Homo sapiens: one gene and its partners. The protein of the gene in region 1 interacts with the protein of each later gene in a pairwise test. Each region holds a gene or a part of one and is shown in the gene's direction. Other genes may lie near its edges. The genes, in order: MFAP1, ZFP41, KATNBL1, TCP10L, TRIM41, TLE5 and MAD1L1.

The links.
Region 2: the proteins of MFAP1 (region 1) and ZFP41 interact in binary tests that used the Homo sapiens proteins (3 or more experiments, as listed by UniProt).
Region 3: the proteins of MFAP1 (region 1) and KATNBL1 interact in binary tests that used the Homo sapiens proteins (3 or more experiments, as listed by UniProt).
Region 4: the proteins of MFAP1 (region 1) and TCP10L interact in binary tests that used the Homo sapiens proteins (3 or more experiments, as listed by UniProt).
Region 5: the proteins of MFAP1 (region 1) and TRIM41 interact in binary tests that used the Homo sapiens proteins (3 or more experiments, as listed by UniProt).
Region 6: the proteins of MFAP1 (region 1) and TLE5 interact in binary tests that used the Homo sapiens proteins (3 or more experiments, as listed by UniProt).
Region 7: the proteins of MFAP1 (region 1) and MAD1L1 interact in binary tests that used the Homo sapiens proteins (3 or more experiments, as listed by UniProt).

What each region holds. Positions count from the first base shown.
Region 1 is NC_000015.10:43,807,691-43,811,190, reverse strand, and holds part of MFAP1 (microfibrillar-associated protein 1), read left to right. Parts: intron 1-1,276; coding exon 1,277-1,436; intron 1,437-3,500. UniProt on the Homo sapiens protein: Involved in pre-mRNA splicing as a component of the spliceosome.
Region 2 is NC_000008.11:143,253,439-143,256,938, forward strand, and holds part of ZFP41 (zinc finger protein 41 homolog), read left to right. Parts: exon of another isoform or gene 1-153; intron 154-3,500. UniProt on the Homo sapiens protein: A putative DNA-binding regulatory protein associated with meiosis in spermatogenesis.
Region 3 is NC_000015.10:34,200,097-34,203,596, reverse strand, and holds part of KATNBL1 (KATNB1-like protein 1), read left to right. Parts: intron 1-3,500.
Region 4 is NC_000021.9:32,582,724-32,586,862, reverse strand, and holds the start of TCP10L (T-complex protein 10A homolog 1), read left to right. Parts: upstream 1-1,339; 5' UTR 1,340-1,442; intron 1,443-2,557; 5' UTR 2,558-2,558; coding exon 2,559-2,702; intron 2,703-4,139. UniProt on the Homo sapiens protein: May be involved in transcriptional regulation. Has in vitro transcription inhibition activity. Acts as a tumor suppressor in hepatocellular carcinoma (HCC) cells.
Region 5 is NC_000005.10:181,229,781-181,233,280, forward strand, and holds part of TRIM41 (E3 ubiquitin-protein ligase TRIM41), read left to right. Parts: intron 1-963; coding exon 964-1,059; intron 1,060-2,878; coding exon 2,879-3,109; intron 3,110-3,500.
Region 6 is NC_000019.10:3,052,496-3,055,995, reverse strand, and holds the end of TLE5 (TLE family member 5), read left to right. Parts: intron 1-269; coding exon 270-332; intron 333-1,801; coding exon 1,802-1,876; intron 1,877-1,955; coding exon 1,956-2,177; 3' UTR 2,178-3,086; downstream 3,087-3,500. UniProt on the Homo sapiens protein: Transcriptional corepressor. Acts as a dominant repressor towards other family members. Inhibits NF-kappa-B-regulated gene expression. May be required for the initiation and maintenance of the differentiated state.
Region 7 is NC_000007.14:1,816,946-1,820,445, reverse strand, and holds part of MAD1L1 (mitotic spindle assembly checkpoint protein MAD1), read left to right. Parts: intron 1-3,500. UniProt on the Homo sapiens protein: Component of the spindle-assembly checkpoint that prevents the onset of anaphase until all chromosomes are properly aligned at the metaphase plate.

The sequences.
Region 1 (3,500 bases):
CACCCACCTCGGCCTCCCAAAGTGCTGGGATTACAGGCATGAGCCACCACGCCTGGCCCTCAGCCTGTAGTTTCTAAGATTTTTATCCTGGACCTGTAGGAGTAGGAGTCTAAGTGCCCTTTAAAATTGTACACAAGGCCGGGCGTGGTGGCTCACGCCTGTAATCCCAACAATTTGGGAGGCCGAGGTGGGCGGCTCACAAGGTCAGGAGTTTGACACCCGCCTGTCCAACATGGTGAAACCCTGTCTGTACTAAAAATACAAAAATTAGTCGGGCATGGTGGCACACACCTGTAATCCCAGCTACTCAGGAGGCTGAAGCAGGAGAATAGCTTGAACCTGGGAGGCAGAGGTTGCAGTGAGCCAAGATCATGCCACTGCACTCCAGCCTGGGCAACAGAGCAAGATTCCATCTCAAAAAAATATAAAATTGTACACAAAATTGTGTGTATGTATGCATTTTATTTGGAGACAAGGGATATCACTCCCTCTCCCCAACACTGGCTAAAAAGTTACTGCAATCTGGCTGGGCGCAGTGGCTCACGCCTATAATCCCAACACTTTGGAAGGCCAAGGCGGGCGGATCACGAGGTCAGGAGATTGAGACCATCCTGGCTAACACGGTGAAACCCCGTCTCTACTAAAAATTCAAAAAGATTAGCTGGGCATGGTGGCGGGCACCTGTAGTCCCAGCTAATCGGGAGGCTGAGGCAGGAGAATGGCATGAACCCAGGAGGCGGAGCTTGCAGTGAGCCAAGATCACACCACTGCACTCCAGCCTGGGCGACAGAGCAAGACTCCATCTCACCAAAAAGAAAAAAAAAAAAAAAAGTTACTGCAATCTAATTAATGATGGTAATCTTTGGTTTATGACATGCAAGCACCTATATGATTATGATACACTTACATAAAGGAATACCAGCAAAGCCTCAGACACTTATTTTAAATTCACTGATTTTTTTTTTTTTTTAAAGCTAAGAAGACCTTTTAGGGAAAGAGAATTTGTAATGTTGGAAAACCCAGCAGTAATAGTATGTCTGAACGTCAGAAGGGCTAGAATCAACTTTTGAAAGTTGGCAATACCTAGTCTAGCAAACATAATGAAGACTAACTCACCCATTTGTTTATTGAGCTCCTTATCTTGATTCCTAATAGGCAATGACTAGAATTAAAGAAGGTGACTAATACTTGAAATGACATGGGACTGTTATTTTCAGATAATTTGGTCTTTCTGAAGCTGTAACAGTACCAATAAATTGTTTTGCTCCCTGGACAGGCTTGAGAAGGAGAAAGCAGAAATTGAACGCATGCGAAACCTGACTGAGGAAGAGAGGAGAGCTGAACTTCGGGCAAACGGCAAAGTCATTACCAACAAAGCTGTTAAGGGCAAATACAAGTTCTTACAGAAGTATTATCACCGGGGTGCCTTCTTCATGGTAAGAAGTGAAAAGAGAGTCAGAAAATTGGGCAGTAGGAATAACTCAGAAACTTTGAATTATTTTTCTCTTCAAGAATATTCTGGAATGTAATTTCCACTTGCCAGTGGTCAGCTTTCTCATTTGCTTTTTCCTTCTGAACAATATAAACTCAGAGAAAAGCATCAGCAATTGGATGACAGAAGTAGCATCAACTGTTCTCTCTTTTGGCCCCAACTCTCAAAAATAGGAAATGATGTAATAGACTTTTTTTTTTTTTTTAAGAGACAGAGTCTCGCTGTCACCCAGGCTGGGGTACGGTGGTGCGATTATAGTTCACTGCAACCTTGACGTCCTGCGCTTTACACCTGCTTCAGCCTCCAGAGTAGCTGGGACTACAGGCATGCAACAACCATGCCTGGCTTTTTTTTTTTTTTTGGTTATTTTTTTTTTAATTTTTCGTAAAGACCAGGTTTCACTATGTTGCCCAGGCTGGTGTTGACCTTCTGGCCTCAAGCAATCCTCCCACCTCAGCCTCCCAAAGTATTAGGAATACAGGCATGAGCCATCATCCCCAGCCTTAGATAAATTGAGGAAATGAAATAGAGAAGTGATCTGTACAGATAGTGGACTAATTAGGTCCTCCACATGACATAGTTGTCATTCTTTCATAGCTGAATGAGAAGTTTTGGTTATGTGAAAACCAAACTCTGCAAATAGCTTTACATTAATTCACTTTTGGGTGGCAGAAAGTTAGTTCACTTCATTCTGAACTGACAGTACCCAAGAGTAACTAACCAAAAAAAATGGTTTATTATCTAACCATTAGATGGAATGCCGTCATCTTTGTTTTTCATATAAAGACTAAGATCAAAATAGCAATCTGTTAACCCTGTATGGTTTATTTCCTAATGTTAAAGCAGTTTGCACCAAAAACTAGACTAGCTTTTTCAAGTGCCGTGTGGCAAATTCTAAATATCCCCACTGCAACTAAATTCCTGCCTTTCACTGCAGATGCTGTTAAAACTTCAGTGGCGGCTTCCCTGCCACCCTCCAAAATCAGTTTCAGGTCTATCTGATTAGCAGGAAGTGTTTACTTAGGTAGTTTTCCAGCAGATGTAGCTTACTATTCAGTGGAGATTATGAACTACTTCTTGTACTGCTTCGGTCATAAAGTTTGTTTGCTTAAGCAGTTCGCAGCTTTAATAATCAAGTTTCTTAGAGAAGCAGTTCATTGCTAGTTAAGATACATAAGAAAAGTGTATGTGAAAGTCCTTTGGTGGGCCAGGTACATTGGCTAATGCCTGTAATCTTAACATTTTGGGAGGCAAGGCCAGCAGATCAGTTGAGCCCAGGAGTTCAGCCCGGGCAACATGGCAAAACCCCATCTCTACAAAAAATACAAAAATTAGGCGTGGTGGTCCGTGCCTGTAGTGTCACCTATCAAGGGGCTGAGGTGGAAGGATTGCTTCAGCCCGAGAGGTTGAGGCTGCAGTCAGCCGTGATCGTGCCACTGCACTGCAGCCTGGGTGGCTGACCAAGACTTTGTCTCAAAATAAATTGTTTTTAAAAAGTCTTTCTTAAACAAGATAGTGCTATTTTTAATTCCTTCAGCATATGTGTTTATAAATATGTATCACAGCATTGTAATATTATCACTCAGGCTAGAGTGCAGTGGTGCAGTCATGGCTCACTGCTGCCTCATTCTCCTGGGCTCAAGCAGTCCTCCTGCCTCAGCCTCCTGAGTAATTGGGACTACAGGTGTGTGCCACCACACCTAATTTCTATTTTGTAGAGATGGGTTTTGCTATGTAGCCCAGGCTGGTCTCAAACTCCTGGGCTCAAACTCTCCTTCCACCTTGGCCTCCCAAAGTGCTGGGATTACAGGCAAGAGCAACTGCATCCAGCCTTACTAATGTTGTTTATTTCATTGAGTAAGTAAGCTTTAGTGCATATACTATGCAAAGGTCACTGTTTAGCACTGTTAGCGAGAATACATAATCACTATAACATAAGTAAAAGTAAAGTACTGTAGGGGTTCTGACGAGAGAGATGTTATATTTGGTAGAAGATTGAAAGGGTTGA
Region 2 (3,500 bases), on another chromosome or scaffold:
GGGGACCACAGAAGGTTGGGGACCACTGCTTTAAACAACTAGCTCTCCCGTGAAGAGCAGGTCCCCACCCTGCTGTGTAGGGCAACAGCAGATGTCAATGGCATATGAATGAACGAGCGTGGCTGTGCCAATAAAACTTTATTTACAAACGTAGGAGGTGGGCCGGATTTGCTTGCCGATCCTGTCCTAGGTGAAGGGTGCATTCGAGCTCCTGGTATAGTTTGGACGTCTGTCCCCTCCAGATCTTATGTGGAAATGTGATCCCCAGTGTGGGAAGGGGCCTGGCAGGAGGTATTCGGGTCACGGGGACAGATCCCTCGAGAATGGCTTGGTGCCCTCCTCACAGTAATGAGTGAGCTCTCACTCTTGAGGTTCACTGGAGAGCTTGTTGTTTAAAGCAGTGGTCCCCAACCTTCTTGGCACCTGGGACCAGTTTTTTCCGTGGACAGGGAGTGGTGTGGATGGTTTGAGTATGAAACTGTCCCACCTCAGATCATCAGGCATTTGATTCTCATAAGGAGCGTGCAACCTAGATCCCTCGCATGCAGTTCACGGTGGGGTTCGTGGTCCAGTGAGAATCTAATGCCACCGCTGATCTGACAGGAGGCGGAGCTTAGGCGGTAACGCTCACTCGCCTGCCACCCACCTCCTGCTGTGTGACCCACTTCTAACAGGCCATGGACCCGTCTTGAGGTCAGGGACTCCTGCATTAAAGAGCCTGGTGCCTCCTCCCGTCTCTTGCTCCCTCCCTGCAGCCTCACCAGAAGCCAAGCAGATACCTGTGCAGCCTGCAGAACCGCCAGCCACGTAAACCTCGTTACAAAAACTTACCCAGCCTCGGGTGTTCCTTTATAGTAACACACAATGAACTAACACAACTCCCAGTCCTTGCACACGCTCTCTGTGTCTTAGTGTCCTTCAGAATTAGCTGTTGGCAGGGAAGAGCCGGCGTCAGGAGTCAGGAACTCGGACACAAGAAAGAAACCAGGGGGCGGGACAGGGAGCTGCTCAGAGCAGGCATCCTCTGCTGTCTGTCGGGATGTGCCACAGAGGGTGGCAAGTGTGGACACGGCTGTCTAGGATGGCCCAGGAGACGGGCACGCATTCCCTGGTGGTGTCTGCATTTGGTTTGATTTTACTTATGATAGTATGATCGTTGCTTTTCCCCGTTACTGACAATAGGGAGCGTTACTTTTTTTTTTTTTTTTTTTTTGAGACAGAGTCTCATTCTGTTGCCAGGCTGGAGTGCAGTGGCACGATCTCAGCTCACCACAACCTCCACCTCCCGCGGTCAAGCGATTCCCCTGCTTCAGCATCCCGAGTAGCTGGGATTTCAGGCACGCACCACCACGCCCAGCTAATTTTTGTATTTTTAGTAGAGACGGGGTTTCACCATGTTGGCCAGGAAGGAAGCATTACTTTTAATGCCTGCACAATGACCAGTTGAATCGAAAAGGCACAGGTGACTTATCCACTTCCCAGCATGGGCATGTGGGCTGTTTCCAACCTAGGTTATTATAAATAATGCCACAATAAATATCTTTTCCATATTTAGGGCCAATAGGACGGATTCCCAGGTGTGGATTGACATCTCACCAAATGCCAGCCCCAGGTCATGCCCACAGAGACGCCTGCAGCAGCGCATGGCTGGCAGGACCACCTCAGCCTCTCTAGCAGCAGGCAGGTGGGTTCCTGATCCTAAACTCACACTTTAATCTGATGTCTTTGATTTCTAGGACGCACGTAGTGGGTCAAGAGCATAGCTCTCAAGTCAGGGGCTGTGGACTTGACCCTCACTCTGGAACTGTGGGGCCTTTGCCTCAGTTTTCCCAGGTGTGAAATGGCGATGCTGACAGTGCTTAACCCCACAGGGTTGCCAAGAACAAGAACCGTAATACGTGACGTCGTAAGCACACTGCTGGATCCTACGAACTGTGTGACCGTGTCAGCTCGCCCCGTGTCTGGTGTTAGTGAGATCAGAGCTCGCCCCGCGTGCTGGTGTTCTTGAGATCAGGGCTCACCCCGCGTCTAGTGTTAGTGAGATCAGAGCTCACCCCGCGTGCTGGTGTTAGTGAGATCAGGGCTCGCCCCACGTGCTGGAGTTAGTGAGATCAGGGCTCGCCCCGCGTGCTGGTGTTCTTGAGATCAGGGCTCGCCCCGCGTCTAGTGTTAGTGAGATCAGAGCTCACCCCGCGTGCTGGTGTTAGTGAGATCAGGGCTCGCCCCACGTGCTGGAGTTAGTGAGATCAGGGCTCGCCCCGCGTGCTGGTGTTAGTGAGATCACGGCTCACCCCGCGTGCTGGTGTTAGTGAGATCAGGGCTCTCCCCGCGTGCTAGAGTTAGTGAGATCAGGGCTCGCCCCGCGTGCTGGTGTTAGTGAGATCAGGGCTCGCCCCGCGTGCTGGTGTTCTTGAGATCAGGGCTCGCCCCGCGTGCTGGTGTTAGTGAGATCAGGGCTCGCCCCGCGTGCTGGTGTTAGTGAGATCACGGCTCGCCCCGCGTGCTGGTGTTAGTGAGATCAGGGCTCTCCCCGCGTGCTAGAGTTAGTGAGATCAGGGCTCGCCCCGCGTGCTGGTGTTAGTGAGATCAGGGCTCACCCCGCGTGCTGGTGTTCTTGAGATCAGGGCTCACCCCGCGTGCTGGTGTTAGTGAGATCAGGGCTCGCCCCGCGTGCTGGTGTTAGTGAGATCACGGCTCGCCCCGCGTGCTGGTGTTAGTGAGATCAGGGCTCGCCCCGCGTGCTGGTGTTAGTGAGATCAGGGCTCGCCCCGCGTGCTGGAGTTAGTGAGATCAGGGCTCGCCCCGCGTGCTGGTGTTAGTGAGATCACGGCTCGCCCCGCGTGCTGGTGTTAGTGAGATCAGGGCTCGCCCCGCGTGCTGGTGTTAGTGAGATCAGGGCTCACCCCGCGTGCTGGAGTTAGTGAGATCAGGGCTCGCCCCGCGTGCTGGAGTTAGTGAGATCAGGGCTCGCCCCGCGTGCTGGTGTTAGTGAGATCAGGGCTCGCCCCACATGCTGGTGTTAGTGAGATCAGATATTGGTTCACACACGAAATGGGGGCCATGCAAACTGACTGCCTTGGATACTTCTCCAAGGAAAAGATGAGAGAGCTGGCTTCAACAAAATCGGCATGGAAAACAACAAAAGATACATTTTTGGGGCCAGATGTGGTGACTCACATCTGTAATCCCAGTGCTTTGGAAGGCCGAGGCAGGAGGATCACTTGAGGCCAGGAGTTCAAGACCTGCTTGGATGACAGAGCAAGACCCTGTCTCAAAAATAAAAGATACATTTTTTTAAATCCACTTGGAAATTTTTTTTAACGTTTATGGTTATGAGAAAAATTGCATAACCAAAACAAAACCAGTCTGCCATCTTTTTTGTCCCTATCATTTGGCACAGACAGACGAACTCCTGACGTCACAGCAGGACCAAGAGCTGAAGCCGGAGGCACAGACAGATGAATTCCTGATGTCATAGCAAGACCAAGAGCTGAAGCCGG
Region 3 (3,500 bases), 9.6 Mb from region 1:
GCATAAGCTAATTTCCAGATGGTGATAAATGTGGTGGGGGAAAAATACAGGGTACTGCTATAGAGAATGATTGTAAGTGAGGGTGGGGTTATTCTTGATTGGGTGGTGAGTGTGTGGGAGGAATATTTTAAGCAGAAAGAATGGCTCAGCCACAAAATGGAAATAAGTTTGAAATGTTGAAGGACAGAAGGCCAGTGTGGCTGAAGCATTTAGGAAGCTATTATATAGTCTAAAGGAGTTGGTGGTTTGGTCTAGAATGGTGGTAATGGAAATGGAAAGAAACGGACAGCTTGGGAATATATTATAAAGGCAAAGTCAACAAATTGGATGTAGGTTATTAAGGAAAAAAGAAATCAAGGATGAATCCTTTATTTCAGGCTTGAGAAATTGGAAGGAGGATGGTTCCGTTTACTGAGTTAGGGACTGTTGGGAGGAGCAGATTTGAGAGGGGGGATATTAAGGGTTCTATTTTTAATATGTTAAGTTCAAGAATAGATGACTATTGGATATCCATGTGGAGCTGGCTAGTAGGCAGTTGGAGATTTGAATCCAGAGTTTAGGTGAAACAGTATGATGAGAGATTTTATTTATTTATTTTTATTTTTTTTGAGACAGAGTCTTGCTGTCGCCCAGGCTGGAGTGCAATGGCGTGATCTTGGCTTACTGCAACCTCCGCCTTCCGGGCTCAAGCAATTCTTCTGCCTCAGCCTCCCCAGTGGCTGGGATTACAGGTGCCTGCCACCATGCCCAGCTAATTTTTGTATTTTTAGTAGAGATGGGTTTTCACCGTATTAGCCAGGCTGGTCTCGAACTCCGGACCTCAGGCAATCCGCCCACCTAGGCCTCCCAAAGTGCTGAGATTACAGGCGTGAACCACCGCGCCTGGCCGAGATTTTATTCTTAAATGAAAGTTAATATGTTAATTTTTGTTATAGTTAAGTCTTGGACACAGGAGTCATATTTTCTTGAGCCTGCAAGTGATTCTTCTGTTGGAGAAGAAAGTGTTCCCTGAGAGAGGAGGCATTTTCAAACCTTAATATACGTTCTGATTTCAGCCTAGGAGATATGGTGGTGCCCAACCACTGTAACTGTTGGGGATGTAATATAATCCTCACAAGTTTTGGAACATAAAGGTTTAAGAACCGTTGTTATAAAAAGATTTTGAATGTCTCTAGTATCATTTTTGTTAATTCTTAAAGGATGATCTACCCTTTTTTCCAAGGCTTAGGGTATACTTAACCCTGTTGACTTCTGGTACTGTAGAAATTAGGCACAAGTGTCGTAGGGTGGTGACATTAGTCCAAATAATGAAGATAGAGTTTTTTAATTAATTTATATTAGCTCATCATTTTGAGAGTTGAATACTACTTTATTGGTATATCCTCTCATATGTAGAGAGTCTATTGGTTTTGAAAGTATCAGAAATACCTTTAGTAGGCAAACAAGGGTCAAAAATGATCCTTAAAGTGACAATGTTTTATGTATGTATACATTCATCCCTCATTATCTATGGGCGATTGGTTCCAGGACCTCCCAATGATATCACAATCCGAGGATGCTCAAATCCCTGATATAAAGTGGTGTAGTATTTCCACATAACCTTTGCACATCCTCCCATACACCTTAAATAATTTCTAAATTATTTGTAATATCTAGTACAATGTAAATGCTATGTAAATAGTTGTTATACTGTATTATTGGGGGAATAGTGATGAGAAAAATAAGTCTACATATTCAGTAGAGATGTATTTTTTTTCTAAATAGTTTTGATTGGGAATTGATTGAATCCACAGATGCTGAACCCACGGATACAGAGGGCCAGTTGTATATATATTTTCCATTTCTGAGTCCAAGAAGACAATTAAAACAGAATCAAGTATTTTTTCCTCCCTGTTGAATATTTCCAGAAAATACTGGGTTATTCTAACAGGGAAAGTAAATTGGAATTTGGCGAATTCACCAAAACATGCTAGAATAATCATAACCATCTACTTCTAGGCGTAAGAAGTCCTAAGTCTTCCCAAAGATTCAGGTGTTTTATAGCCATTTAAGAAAATATGTATATAATACTCTAATACATTATAATTAAGTTAAAACATACTTGCACATTATACAAAATTCAAAAGGCCCAAAAGGGAAAAGTCTTCTCCCTTCACCCCCTAGCCACACATATCCTCTCACTAGAAGTGACTTTTGTCCCCAGTTTCTCTCATATCCTTCAAAAGATATTTAGTGAATATACAAGTAGTCCCTCACAGACACACACTTTTTAACCTAAGTGGTAACATAGTGTTTTGCTACCTTACTTTTTTCTCCCTACTTTCCAGTATAAGGCATAGTTATGTTTTTTAAAAAGCCTGTGTAGGTCCACAACTATGGATGGTGATAAACATCTACCTAGTTCTTTAATTTTATTTTCCCATTATTAGTCCCAGTTCCCTAATGTAGTAATCTAAGTGGACTTGATTAAAACTGAGGAAGAGGCCGGGTGTGGTGGCTCAAGCCTGTAATCCCAGCACTTTGGGAGGCCGAGGAGGGCAGATCACGAGGTCAGGAGATCGAGACCATTCTGGCCAACATGGTGAAACCCTGTCTTTACTAAAATACAAAAAATTAGCCAGGTGTGGTGGTGTGCACCTGTAATCCCAGCTACTTGGGAGGCTGAGGCAGGGGAATCGCTTGAACCTGGGAGGCAGAGGTTGCAGTGAGCTGAGATGGCGCCACTGCACTCCAGCCTGGCGACAGAGCAAGACGCTGTCTCAAAAAACAAAACAAAACAAAACAAAAACACTGAGGAAGAGGTAGTAGGAAAGCTAATTCCCACTTGGCATCTCTTTTGTAATTTTTATTTCAGGGTATCTCAGTCATAAGAGAGTTGGAATTCAGTTTGATCCAAATTGATTGAAATGATATAGTATTGTACCCACTGAATCTCCAGACATCTGTCTTTATTTTCATGCTTGATCTGCTTTCCCGAGTTTGACGTTATTTCTCAAATCAGCTTACTGTGGAAAACTGAATTAAGAGAAAGTGGTGGGCGGGGCGTGGTGGCTCACGCCTGTAATCCCAGCATTTTGGGAGGCTGAGGCAGGTGGATCAAGAGGTCAGGCGTTCGAGACCAGCCTGGCCAATATGGTGAAACCCCATCTCTACTAAAAATACAAAAAAAAAAAACAATTAGCTGGGCGTGGTGGCACGCACCTGTAATCCCAGCTACTCAGGAGGCTGAGGCACGAGAATCTCTTGAATGCGGGAGGCGAAGGTTGCAGTGAGCCGAGATGGCGCCACTGCACTCCAGCCTGGGAGACAGAGGAAGACTCCATCTCAAAAAAAAAAGAAGAGAGAGAGAGAAAGTGGTGTGATGAATCATCATTCAGGAAATATTAAACCCTTGAGATATCAACTTTGAGTTGTTCCGAGTAGGTGAGAGGTGAAGCCAGCTGGGTTTCTGGGTTGGGTGGGGACTTGGAGAACTTTTCTGTCTAGCCAGAGGATTGTAA
Region 4 (4,139 bases), on another chromosome or scaffold:
CTCACACACCTCAGGACACACACACAACCCCTCACACACCTCAGGAACCCATATAAGGAACCCACACACCTCAGGCTCATACACACAAGCCCTCACACACCTCAGGAATCCACACACAACCCCTCACACACCTCAGGGTCTCACACACAATGTTGACACACCTCAGGGTCTCATACACAAACCCTCACACACCTCAGGACCCACACAATTCATCACACTTCTCAGGACACACATAAAACCCCTCACACACCTCAGGGGCCCATACATAACCCCTCACACACCTCAGGACTCACACACAATCCTCTCACACACCTCAGGACTCACACAACCTCTCACACACCTTAGGACCCACACACAACCACTCACACACCTTAGGACCCACACACAACCTCTCACACACCTTAGGACCCACACACAACCACTCACACACCTTAGGACCCACACACAACCTCTCACACACCTCAGGGACCCACACACAACCACTCACACACCTCAGGACCCACACACACCTCATACACCTCAGGGACACACACAACCCCTCACATACCTCAGAAACCTATATAAACTCTCACACACTTCAGGACAAACATACAACCTCTCACGCACCTCAGGACACACACACACACACTCGCACACCTCAGGACACACACACACACTCTCACAGTTAGAATGACACATGGGGACAAAAGTGCCTTCTGTTTCCTCTTTGTAGTATTCTCTTCATTCATTCATGACGTCGGCATTTACTGCCTATTGCATGCGAATCGCTTGCAGAACTATCCAAGTGACACACGTCCCAAGCAGGCTCAGGTGAGCCCCAGGTGTATGTTGTCCACACGCAGCACCATGGATGAGAAGGACAGCCAGGGTTTAACAGGAATATCGACTCTTGCTTGCTCCTCATTCTCTTCTCTATCACAAAAATCACACGGACAATTCAGATGGAGATGCATTTAGTGAAATGATGAAACTTTGAATCCTGTCTCCTATTTAAACTCACATATATTATTTTCCCTTCATAAAAATGTTTTTTCTAGTAAATAATTTGATATCCGAAGAAAGTTTGTATTTCTCCAAGAATGTATGCTCAGAGAAATGAGCTCTTACTACACGTTGCGTATTGAAGACTGGATATAAAACACATGGTTTTTGTCAATTTGGAGGAGTAGTTTGACTCTCTCCAATGTCCTTTGTGGATGGATGGACTCCACTGACGATGAGCTTCTATATTAAGAATTGCAGGTTTGGGGATGTTTAATTATTATCTGAGCTGGTACAGTGGTGACGCTGAGTGAGACGTTCATGTCCCTTTAAGACAGAAAGTCCGTTGGAACTGTCCGCTGCTCTCTGGTCTCTGGATATGAGGCAGGAGGGCTTGGGGACAACTGTGGGGACATGGCCCAGATGATCTGATCCTGGCAGTAGTGACTGTTGGGGACCAGGTGAGGTGACGAGGTCTGGTGGTGGGGCTGAAGGAAAGGGTCTTCCCTGGACTGAGGGGGTCATGAGTTTGGGGCCGAGGACACTGGGGTGTCCCCTCAGAGGAGCAGGAAAGAAGGAGCTTTCTCAGGGCTGTGAGGACCGTGACCCCAGCCCACTTCCGCAGAAACATTCCCAGTCTCCGCGGGGAAGGAATGGCAGTGATCTGGTTACTGGTAGGTCTTGCTCTAGACCTTCGATTCGCTTCCATCAGGAGACTCTCTTTTAAATAGCATTTCTCCGATCACTGTGGTTAAACTGTTCCTTCTCACACAGTTAGAAGTTTATGAATTAAACAGTCGGGGTTTCGTTGGGGGCCACTGGCTTCCTAAAACGGACAGGGCAAGGCAGGGGTGGAGGCAGCTTTCAGAGACGACCCTGCAGGCTTGCAGGAAAGCTTTGCGTTTTTCTCTTTCGTTTTTGTTCTCTAATTGCTGTGAACTTCCTAGAACTGGCATAAATGCTGTACCTATAAAAAGGTGTTTCCTTTCCACATCTTCACCATGAATTCACAAATGTCACCCTGATGGTTCAAGACACATACTCAACACGGTGGAGGGTCTGCCTGTGCCCCTCCAGGTGGGTGCTGATTAAAGGGCTGAGAATTCCCTCGGTGTCTCATGCGACCCTCCACTCACACCTGCTCACACCCTGAGACCATTCCACTCACACCTGCTCATACCCCAAGACCATCGTGCTCACATCCGCTCACATCCATTCACATTCCGCTCATATCCTGCTCACAACCCACTCACATCCCACTCACACCGGCTCACACCCCACTCACACCCCTCTTTGGATGACTGGAGTGTGTTAGGTGTCAGGCTGATCTTCTAGGATCTAAAGCATTTTCCACGGAGGATGGTGGAGAGCCAGGTGTGGACAGCTCAGTCCCTCTGTCTGTGGTGTCCTTTCACCTGGTCAGCTTCGGGCCTGGGAATGTGCACATGACCCAGGGGGAGAAGGAGCGGCTGCGGGTCCTGCTCACCCTTAGTTTGGGGCTGGGGCCTTCAGCCCACACTGACGGGGTAGGAGGGCTGCATTCAAGTGTCCCCATAGCCCTTCCCTTCCCAACCAGGATGCTGGCAGGTCAACTCGAGGCCAGGGACCCCAAAGAGGGCACCCACCCAGAGGACCCGTGCCCAGGAGCTGGGGCTGTCATGGAGAAGACAGCTGTGGCAGCCGAGGTTCTCACGGAGGACTGCAACACTGGGGAGATGCCAGTGAGTTGAGCTCTGTGGGGACAGAGTTAGTCCCACCAGGCGGGACCCTGATTCCTGTCCCTGAGGCCCGTCATTGGACTTTCCCTTGCTGGACCCCTGTAGGAATGCACCACCCCGGGACACTGATTCTGTACTTCCTCTCCAAGGGGCATGTGGCTCTTTCCCCCTCTGCAACCGTATCTCTTGGTGGATGGGAGGCAGGGCAGGGAGTTAAAGAAAATATTAACATTCCAGCTTTTCTCCTCTAATCCAGGAGAAGGCACCAGACTTTAAAAACTTCATTAAAGAAAATCAGAAAGTTGACATGCCTCACATCATCCCAGCAAGTTTCCTGATTTTTACCATCTTCCTCATTGGACCCTGTTGGACAGTGCTTGCTGTCATTAAAGTCCCACGGGTCCCTGTGGCCAGGGCCACCCAGTGCAGGACTGTACCTTTATCACGATCCCACTTATTCTCAGAGCAAGGCTGGAGGCTCTACGATCCAGTGAAGGATCCCAGGGGAAGGCTAACATGTTAGGTTGAAAATGCAGTGGCTTCCATAATTTTTTTTTTTTTTTTTTTTTTTTTTTGAGACGGAGTCTCGCTCTGTCGCCCAGGCTGGAGTGCAGTGGCGGGATCTCGGCTCACTGCAAGCTCCGCCTCCCGGGTTCACGCCATTCTCCTGCCTCAGCCTCCCACGTAGCTGGGACTACAGGCGCCCGCCACTACGCCCGGCTAATTTTTTGTATTTTTAGTAGAGACGGGGTTTCACCGTGTTAGCCGGGATGGTCTCGATCTCCTGACCTCGTGATCCGCCCGCCTCGGCCTCCCAAAGTGCTGGGATTACAGGCGTGAGCCACCGCGCCCGGCCGGCTTCCATAATTTTTAAACTATTGACCATATATCCATGCCAGTACAGCCTTTGAGACCAGTCTGGCCAACATGGTAAAACCCTGTCTCTACTAACAATAGAAAAATTAGCCAGGTGTGGTGGCATGTGCCTGTAATCCCAACTACTCTGGATGCTGAGGCACCAGAGTTGCTTGAATCTGGGAAGTGGAGGTTGCAGTGAGCTGAGACTGCGCCACTGCACTCCAGCCTGGGTGACAGAGAAAGACACTGTCTCAAAAAAAAAAAAAAAAAAAAAAAAAAAAGGAAAAGAATGCCAGCCTCTTTTTGCTGTAGTAGTGTTTTAACAAAAAAATCATAATTCACTAACCATCTTTATCTGGTTATATTATGTGGACTAACTCATAATAAACACTACTTAATAAGAATAAAGCTATGGCCAGGCATGGTAGCTTATTCCTGTAATCCCAGCACTTTGGGAGGCCGAGGCAGGTGGATTGCTTGAGCCCAGGAGTTTGAGACCAGTCTGGGCAACATGGTGAACCCCCATCCCGAGTAAAAATACAAAAATTAGCGAAGTATGGTGGCACATGCCTGTAGTCCCAG
Region 5 (3,500 bases), on another chromosome or scaffold:
GGAGGATCAGGGCCATTTTCAGGGAGCTGTTTTAAAGGAAGAATACCTTGGGCCAAGTGGAGAAAGGCACTCCCAGACAGAGGGAACAGCATGGAATTATACTCAGGAAATGACAAGTAATTTTATGTGGTCAAACGTGTTAAGAGTCTGTGTGGAAGGCGTTGAGTGTAGAGGTGAGGCTGGAAGTGTGGGGTCAATGTTTTGGAAGTGGTGGTGACCCATGGAAAGGTTTTAGCATAGGAAAAAAATCATCAGAAAAGTATTTAGAGAGAAGAGTTCTGGGGAAGATCGCCTGTGAAGGGGAAGGGGACCAAAGGTGAGGGCACCCCTGGAAAGACTCTGGTGCGGGGCTCAAGCCACTTCCCCTCAGCTGTGAGCGTGGGAGCTCTCTAGTCTTGAGGCTCCTACCTTTAGAGAATACACACAGGGCCGGCCGGGCGCGGTGGCTCACGCCTATAATCTCAGTACTTTGGGAGGCTGAGGTGGACGGATCACGAGGTCAGGAGATTGAGACCATCCTGGGTAGCATGGCGAGGTGAAACCACGTCTCTACTAAAAATAAAAAAATTAGCCAGGCGTGGTGGTGGGCACCTGTAGTACCAGCTACTGGGAAGGCTGAGGCAGGAGAATCGCTTGAATCCGGGAGGTGGAGGTTCCAGTGAGCCAAGATCGTGCCACTGCACTCCAGCCTGAGCGACAGAGCGAGACTCTGTCTCAAAAAAAAAAAAAAAAAAAAAAAAAAAAAATACACACAGGGCTTCTGCAGACGTGCACAGAGGGATTGGAGGCTTTTGTCATCATCTGAAAGAAGAAAGTGGAGGAAGGTATAATACTCACTTGACACCCATTTTCGGGGGTAGGGATCAGGCTTTGACCCATCTTGCTATAGGGAGGATTGCAGAGGTAGGCTCTGAAGGGCAGGTGCCTCTCCCAGCCCCCACTTTTCTTTTTCTGTTTCCTCAGGCCAAACTGCAGGGGCACGTGGAACCACTGAGGAAGCACCTGGAGGCAGTGCAGAAGATGAAAGCCAAGGAGGAGAGGCGAGTGACAGAACTGAAGGTGGGTGAATGTTCTCGACGGGGCTGATGGGCAGTACAGTCGAGGCAAGGAAGGTAGGGCTTCCCACTCTCACAGGGAGTGACTTGGTCCCCTGAGGAGGGGACAGCTAAGGCCTGGGAGAGGGGTAGATGCTTTCCCTAGGTGCTGAGGAGAGCGGGGCCTTAGAGAATCAGGAGGCATGTTCATTCCTGGTTCCAAAATGGAGTGGAAACTGAGGCCTGGATTGGAGGGCCTAGGTGCCTGGCCCAAGGCTGCAGAACAGGCTTTCTACCCGACACCAGAGCCTGAAGGGGGCAAAGCAAAACCCACATAGCAGCCATCAGAGAAGCTGCCGGCCCCAGGATCCATGCAGGCACTGGGCAGAGCAGCCCTAAGCATGAGGCGGACACTGTCCTGGGACACTTGCTGTGTCCTGAGAGGGGGCCAGTGTGTTTAAGCTGGGGCAGGATTTAGTGTATGTTAGCACTGCAGAGACCTAATATTTCCTAGTCTAGTGTTTTCTCAGCACACCCCGACCCCCCCGCTTTTTTTGTTGTTTTTTTCCATTATTGCTCGCCCTTCTCCAAGGAGTCTTTTAAGATACATTTTCCATCCCCACCTCCCGCCTGTTTTCATAACCCCAGCAGGTCCTGCTGGGATGGGCTGGCACTGTGAGCTTCATAGACCAAGCCAGGACCTCCCCTTCTGTCCCTCTTCCCTCCTCCCTTCCCAGCCAGTGCCTGGGCCTTGCCACTACCCAGGGCCCATGCTCACTGCCACCTGAACGTTAGGGACTCTGCTGCTGGCGACTGCTAGGCACTGAATGGTAGGATCTGTCTGGGAGTAGGAAGTCATCGTGCTTCTGGCCAGCTGCCCAAGTTGATACTTTTGGGCTCTCCTGGGTATAGAGGTAACAGGAGCTGTGTGCCCCTGGCATAGAGTGAAGCTGACTGTGGCGGCTGTTCCCTCACGCGTCTGGTCAGTTGGGACCCTCCTCTGGCCTGCTGCTCACAGCGTCTGCAGCCGATGGTAGCTGTGTGAAAAGTGTGCCTACCACCCAGGAAGGGCCATCCCTGGCAAATAGGGTGGGACTGGGCAGGAGTTTTTTCTGTTACAGGATATTAAGTCCCTACATAATATCCTTGATTTTTGCCTCTTAGCCCACAAAGCATAAAAATACTTACTATCTGGACCTTCACAGAAAAAGTTTTTCCGAGTTCTGATCTGGGGCTTTTGGGTGACTTTCTTAAGGTCACTGTGTTTAATGGCGTCGGGACCCTAACTTCATGTTTTGATTCCTGAATTCTTTTATTTATTCATTTCAAAAATTTTTACCAGGTGCCTACTCTGATTGGTACTATGTCAGGGTCCGAGGACCCTGGCAAACAAAGACATTCCTAGTCCCTGTCAGTGGGAGCTCATGGTACAGTGGGGGAAAGGATGTTAACAGTTACGTCATTTAAACACAACGTTTCAATATTATATGTGCCACAGAGAGATACAGTGATATTTGTGGGGATGGTCCCGATTTAGATCTGGAGAGGAGGGAAGGCTTGTCTTGGAATATTTAAGGTTGGACCTGAAGGATGAGTCAACTTAGGTAGAGTCAGGTGGAGAGGAGTGTTCCAGGCAGAGGTTAGTGAGTTTGAGACCACTGTGCTGGGAGCAAGGGGGTGGTATCTGGTAAGGCTGGTAGGGGATGAGCCTCTTTCCGGGACTATCTTGGACCTGGGGAGTGTAGGGCTCCTTTGCCTTGCATTGAGAAGTAGTAGTTGCAAAACTGGAGGTTATCTTCGTACGTGTTGAGGTGGTGTCTGCCATCCCCTTTGCACCATTCCAGAGCCAGATGAAGTCAGAGCTGGCAGCGGTGGCCTCGGAGTTTGGGCGACTGACACGGTTTCTGGCTGAAGAGCAGGCAGGGCTGGAACGGCGTCTCAGAGAGATGCATGAAGCCCAGCTGGGGCGTGCGGGAGCCGCGGCTAGTCGCCTTGCAGAACAGGCCGCCCAGCTCAGCCGCCTGCTGGCAGAGGCCCAGGAGCGGAGCCAGCAGGGGGGTCTCCGGCTGCTCCAGGTGAGCAATGTCCCCTCCCTGTTCCCCCAGCATTCTGTGTTGGCTGTCAGGCAGTGCTTACCAAACGCCTGTCCAGAGCTGCCTCTTTTCTCCCTGGGAGGAACCCACAGTGATTGAACCTGAAGACCAAAAACATGTTTTAAAGCTGGAAACAGAGTTAATGTCGAATGTGGTATGTGTGGCGATTATACCCAGTGAAAAGCATGAAGATTCGGTTGTAGGAGAGGTTTAAATGACAGTTGAGGAAAGTCTTTTTGACAGTGACATCCTGAAAAAGGTGAGCAAGTCGTATTGTGGAAATGACAGTATCCCTGGGCTCACAGCAGGATGAGGCGAGTTAGGTATGGCGAGGCATGGGGTGGTTGAAATGGATGTGTGTTCATTGAGGGCC
Region 6 (3,500 bases), on another chromosome or scaffold:
CCGACCCCCGAGGAATGTGCAGTCTGGCCTCATCCTGCACTTACCTCACTCTAAGCTGCAGGCGACAGCCGGTGTCCAGCCCCACCTTTGCCACTGACTGGCTGCCCTCGGGCCCGAACACGGCTTTGCTCATCCCACCCTGGCCAGACCTAGCCCCTCTTAGAAGCCGCAAGTGGCAGGGCTGGGCCGGGCCCCGCGCAGGCCTCCTGTGGCTAGCCTGCACCTGCCACCCGCCCAGGACTGAAGCCGGCTTCATCTGTGTGTTCCAGGCTGAGATCGTCAAAAGGCTGAACGGGATTTGTGCCCAGGTCCTGCCCTACCTCTCCCAAGAGGTAAGAGCCAGGGCCTTGGGGAGGGGTTGTGAGGGGGCCCCGCACTTGCCCAGCCCCTGTCCACTGCAGCCATCTTGGGTGGTGTGCTGGGCGCCCCAGGGCACACGCCTCCCCTCTCTGGACCTCCCTGGCTCTGAACACCAGAGCCGGCCTGTGCAGAAGAATCCCCGGGCCAGAGACACTCCAGGGGTGCAGGCGTGTGGGGGGCGGGCCTCACCCTGCTCTGGAATTCCCAGCTGGAGTGAGTCATGTCATAGGTAGAAATGTCAGATGGGCCTAAACTGCACCAGGAATGTTTTTTTCTCATCTCTCTTCCTCCTTTCACCCTCTTGAGACATCCTCCTCCAGGCCATGCGGGCTGCACAGGACCAAGGACTAGAGGGTGTTAGGGGATTGTGGGGGAAGGGGTAGCACAGGGTGGTCACACATGGACACAGCCACACAGATAGGCACGAGCACATCAACACACGGGAGATACACAGATGCAGACACGGATACACGTGTGTGCAGACAGCACAGGGACACGCATGCAGGAATGTGCAGCTACACGTGGGCACACGTGATCCTGAGCACACATTACCACATGCACACACACACCCAGATGAACCTGACGCCCAGCTCCTCTTCTCCTTTCTTGGGTTCTGAGGCTCAGGATGCGAGGCCGCCCCTCCCCAGGGCCATGTAAGGCCCATCTCCTGTCCCTGCCAAGTTTACTGTCAAAAGTTTGTAACTTCCTCTTCAATCCCTGTGGGTATCTCAGGATCCTTTGGGTGCCCTGCTTTGCCCAGGGACAAGTCTTAGCAGGACCCAATGAAAGCCCTAGAGAAAAGGGCACTTGGAGCCCTTCAGAACAGAGGCTTCCTGGTAGCCAAGGCAAAAAGGGAGATTGGTAGATTCTAGCATCTGCTGGCCACAGAGTCAGGTGTTTGGGGAGAGCTCAGGGAGGAACTGCCCTGAATCTGAGCCCATTCCCCAGCCAGCCCTGCCAGAATTCATTGGGCCCTCCCCAGCCATGGTAGGAGAAGGGCTCAATTTGGCCAGACTCAGGGCACAGTCTTGGAGCTCCTAGGATCAGGACGTCCCTGTACAGTTGGGCAGGTTGTGTACTGCACAAACATTCACATGTTTCACATCTTTGCAGGTGGCTGTGCACATAGGATAGGTCAGGATCCAGGGTTTCTCCCGGGCTCACTCAAAAGCTGTTTCCTAACTACTTAGCACAAAACCCTTTTAATTGTTTTCTGCACTTTTCCATTTGTCTCTGTTGGCCAGACGAAGAGACGAGCTTGGTGAAAGGAAGCAGTTGGAGAGAGGGAGGGTGCTTTCTGATGGGGTTGAAAACCACTGGGAGGAGCAGACATGATGGCCCACTTGGTAGTGGGGCTCCTCCTGGCCTCAGGGCCGTCCCCCTCTCCTCTCCCAGGATCAGGAGGAATCACTGCCTCTCCTCTCCCCCGACCCCCTTCCAGCACCAGCAGCAGGTCTTGGGAGCCATTGAGAGGGCCAAGCAGGTCACCGCTCCCGAGCTGAACTCTATCATCCGAGTATGTATGGGGACCTGGGCGGGTGGGCGGGGGACAGGTGGGCCCCAGGCAGCTAATGTTCCCCTCCCCCGCCCTGCAGCAGCAGCTCCAAGCCCACCAGCTGTCCCAGCTGCAGGCCCTGGCCCTGCCCTTGACCCCACTACCCGTGGGGCTGCAGCCGCCTTCGCTGCCGGCGGTCAGCGCAGGCACCGGCCTCCTCTCGCTGTCCGCGCTGGGTTCCCAGGCCCACCTCTCCAAGGAAGACAAGAACGGGCACGATGGTGACACCCACCAGGAGGATGATGGCGAGAAGTCGGATTAGCAGGGGGCCGGGACAGGGAGGTTGGGAGGGGGGACAGAGGGGAGACAGAGGCACGGAGAGAAAGGAATGTTTAGCACAAGACACAGCGGAGCTCGGGATTGGCTAAACTCCCATAGTATTTATGGTGGCCGCCGGCGGGGGCCCCAGCCCAGCTTGCAGGCCACCTCTAGCTTTCTTCCTACCCCATTCCCGGCTTCCCTCCTCCTCCCCTGCAGCCTGGTTAGGTGGATACCTGCCCTGACATGTGAGGCAAGCTAAGGCCTGGAGGGTCAGATGGGAGACCAGGTCCCAAGGGAGCAAGACCTCGCGAAGCGCAGCAGCCCCGGCCCTTCCCCCGTTTTGAACATGTGTAACCGACAGTCTGCCTGGGCCACAGCCCTCTCACCCTGGTACTGCATGCACGCAATGCTAGCTGCCCCTTTCCCGTCCTGGGCACCCCGAGTCTCCCCCGACCCCGGGTCCCAGGTATGCTCCCACCTCCACCTGCCCCACTCACCACCTCTGCTAGTTCCAGACACCTCCACGCCCACCTGGTCCTCTCCCATCGCCCACAAAAGGGGGGGCACGAGGGACGAGCTTAGCTGAGCTGGGAGGAGCAGGGTGAGGGTGGGCGACCCAGGATTCCCCCTCCCCTTCCCAAATAAAGATGAGGGTACTAAAGTTGTCTTGGTTTTTATTTTATTATTATTTTTTTCTTTTTCCAGTATACTAGCTTGTCTTTTAAGAAAGGGGATATTAAAAAAAAAAAAAGACAAAAGTGTTTTTAAAAAAAAGCAACACCCACACCTGTGTCTGTATATAGTCAGCTTATCTCGTGTTCAATCGTCTGATCTCTACAGAGAGAAGTGGAAAATGCTGTATCAAGGGTGGGCTTAGCTGTGCCTTTCCAATAAAGATGTGAGAAGCTTCGGTGCTGTGTCCCTGCCTCTGTGTTGTGGCTGCCCCCGGGGGAGGACGGGGTTCCTTCCAATGTGAGACATCCTCCTAGAACATCAGGAGTTCCTAGCTGTGGCCCGGTGCGGTGTGGCTCACGCCTGTCATCCCAACACTTTGGGAGGCTGAGGCAGGCAGATCACTTGAGGCCAGGAGTTCGAGACCAGCCTGGCCAACATGGTGAAACCCTGTCTGTACTAAAAATACAAAAAAGCTGGGCGTGGTGGTGGGCAACTGTGATCCCAGCTACTTAAGAGGCTGAGGCAGAAGAATCACTTGAATTCAAGGAGGTTGCGGTGAGCTGAGATCGCACCACTGCACTCCAGCCTGGGCAACAAGAGCAAAACTCCATCTCAAAAAAAAAAAAAATACAAAAAGTAGCCGGGCATG
Region 7 (3,500 bases), on another chromosome or scaffold:
AATAACTTTTGTTTTCCTGTTCATTCCTACTTGTATTATTTCCTCCTCCTGCTTCGGGCTTGTTTTTCCCTTCGTTTCTTGAAGTAGGAATTTAGAGAAGCGATTTGAGATCTTTCTCCTTTCCTGATACAGGCATTGAGTGCTGTCCGTTTCCCTCTAAGCACTGCCTTGGGTGCGTCTGGCAAATTTCATTATGCTGTATTCTTGTTTCCATTCTGTTCTCTTTTTTATTTCCTTCGAGGCATCCCATTTGACTCGTGGATTACTTAGAAGTGTGCTGTTTAATTTCCAGGCACTTACAGTTTTCCTGTTGTCTTTCTCTGACTGGTTTCTGGTTTTGATGTCCACTGGTGTGGCCTCCACCTCTTCACGCCACCCCACAGATGAACAGCATTCACATAACTTCCCAGTATCTCGAAGTAGCATCGTTTCCATTTCCTGCGTGTCTTCTCATTTTACTGCATTATTTCAGCTTTCCTTGTTTGAGCCAGGATTCAGGGCTTCCTTCATTCCATCTCTAGCTTCCTCCCCTCGAGTTTCCCAGTTCATGGAGTTTCTCTTGGACCCTCAGCAGCAGGGGGTCTTGTTCTTGACAGGAATCCCTCACACTTCCCCCTTGGCCTCCGAGCCCCACCACATCCTGCGGTTGGTGGTGTGTGGAGAAAGTGGTGTGTGGAGAGAGTTGGTGGTGTGCGCTGTCTCTGCTCTCCAAGCCCTTTGTCAGCCCCCACCCCTCCCTCACTCCGTGCCTCTTGTCCGTGCCCGCTGGGACACCATGGGGCTCGGCTCAGGGGATGGTGGGACCAGCGCTTAGTAAGACTAGTCAGCCCTAGGCACCGAGTGAGCACTGCTCACGTGGCAGAGCTGGAATGGGGGCCGGGCACACAATCCCTGGCCCACGTGTTCCACGGACATGCTGCAGAGGTCCCCGGCCCTCCAGGGCAGGCCCTCTCTGCTTCCAGAGGGGCAGGTGAGCCCCAGGCCAGGCCAGCGAGGGTCTGGACTAGAGTGCAGTGGCCACAATGGACGCCGCGAGTGTCTTCATTAAGAGTGAGTGTCTCAGTCTCCCCCAGGGCGCCCGCCAGCCACAGGGCCGCTATGTGCGCAGACTAGACAGGTGGCAGCTCGGGCCGGCCAGGCAGAGGGAGAGGAAGCCAGAGCCTGCGCGCAGGCAGCCTCAGAAGTATTTCCAGCCACAGCCAACGTGTCTTACTGGCAATTTGCTTTTTAAAAAATTGCAGTTTAATTTTAAGTGAGCAGCCCGTAATTACAGTGATTTACGAGGTACCTGGGGACTGTGTGATATTTGAACATGGCAGAGGGCTGAGCAGCGATGGCAGAGATGGATGGGCCCGGCGCCACTCATTCAGCAGGTCCTGCTAATGCCGGAGCGTTAGACCGAGGTGGAGCCTCCCAATGTGGCTGGGTACGCTGGGGGAAACGGAGTCAGAGGTGGGCTGCACAGCAGGTCGACTTGTTCACCGGGGGCTGGTGTTTTGCAAACGCTGGGTCTGCCTTCGTGTGGGGTTTGAGCTGGGAGAGTAGCACTGGTTACTCCTGCCTGTCTCCGTCCACCCCCACCCCCACCTGGAGGGCAGCGCGGTATATTAGGGCATCATTCTTCCAGAGCCGCCTGAGGCCGGCAGAGAGGAGGTGCTGTAGGAGCCGTGAGTGGGTTGCCCGGCCTACCATTGGGAGCAGCTGTCTTGCTGACGCTGGCGGGGTGCACCTGTTTCAAATAAAGAATGATCAGAGCTCACGCCTGTAATCCTCACGTCGTGGGCAGCTGAGGCAGGAGGATCACGTCAGGCCAGGAGTTTGAGACCAGCCAGGCCAGGAGTTTGAGACCAGCCTGGGCAAAATAGCTAAAGTCTATCTATCTCTCAAAAAAATTTAAAAATTAGCCAGGTGTGCTGGCACATGCCTGTCATTCCAACTGCTCAGGAGGCTGAGGTGGATCACTTGAGTCCGGGAGCTCGAGGCTGAGTGACCCGTTATCATGCCACTGCACTCCAGCCTGGGTGACAGAGTGAGACTCGTCTCTAAAAAAAAATATTTTTAGAAATGAACGGCCAGGCTCCCAAAGCCTGCCAGCCTCTGAGGGCCGGGGAAGGCGGGTGCCTGGAAAACAGCTATTCTCTGGTCCAGCCTGGCCAGAGTCTGCACCACAGTGCGTCAGGCCCAGCCAGGTTGCCAGCCCTGGGTTGGGAGGAGGGCGAAGGGCCGGCTGAGGAGACTTCTTCCCACACTGCCTCCCCACCCCTGCCCGGCAGCTGCAGGAGAATCAGCCCCTCTGACATTTAGGGGGAGAAATTCAGAATCAAGAGCAGAAGGCAGAAGTGAAAGGATTTTCTCAGCGAAAGGTCAGAGTGGTTTCTCTTGTTTTTGTTTAAAAATGGTTTGTGTTGAACTATGACAAGGCCAAATGTACTAAGGCAGCAGAAACAGGGGGAGGGCAGGGGGAGGGCACGGGGACGGCTCCTGAGAAACAGGAGGTGCAGGAACAGGTCAGGTCGCAGGGCCTCTGGGGCAGCACGTGCTCCAAAGGTGGTGAGGGGAGGGGCGACACCATCAGGGCGGGGCCCAGCCCAGGCATGCTCCGGTGGACAGGGGAGCTGCCAGGACCAAGCTGGATGGAGCCAGGCCGCCCTGTGGCTCCTGGGGAGGGTTCCCAGAGGGCTGCCGGGCGGAGGGAGCGCTTTCCAAAACGGTTTCCTGAGCTCCGATGCACACACATGCAGCTCACCCTCACGTCTAGCGCTCCATTAGTCTACCGTTCCGTTCCTCCCGGCACATTCAGTGCGCAGCCGCGACCAGTCTAACCGTGGCACATTTCCACTGGCCCTGAGCCCTGACGTGCCCCTCCAGGACATCCCCTGGGCACGGAGTTGTGTCGACAGGTCTCTGTGACTGGCTGGGCGTGTTTTCGGGGTTTGCCCGCGTGGCAGCGTGTATCAGAGTTCGGCTGTACGAAGCGGTGTTGACGGGTAAACCCGGTTTTGTGTCTCCCTCCGGCGGTTGAGGGCTGGTTCCGCGTTCCATCTGTTGGTGATGGGATCGTGTTGCCGTGGACACCCGTGCCGAGGTCTGTGCGTGGACTGCGCTCAGACCCCCTGGCTGCGCGCCCGGGCGGGTGCTGGGCCCATGGACTCTGCGTCCAGCTCTTTGAGGAGCTGCCGGCTGTTTGCAGTGGCCGCACCACACACGCTCCCGCCAGCGACGCGGAGGGTCTGATTCCCCTCGACCCAGCAGCTCATGGTGGTTGCTCTCAGTGGCCGTCGGCGCGAGGCGGCTCCGTGTCTCGCTCAGTTGCGGTTCACGTTTCCCCGGTGCCCAGCGTCCTGGCATGAGCTCATTGGCCGTGTGTGGCTCTTCTCTGGAGAAATGTTCAAGGGCCCCTTGTTTAATTGGCTCTTTCCTCTTCATGGTGGAGTTGTGGGAGTTCTGGGCATATTCTGGGTACAGGACTTTTCAGGGACGTGGTTTCAGAGGGAGCTTTG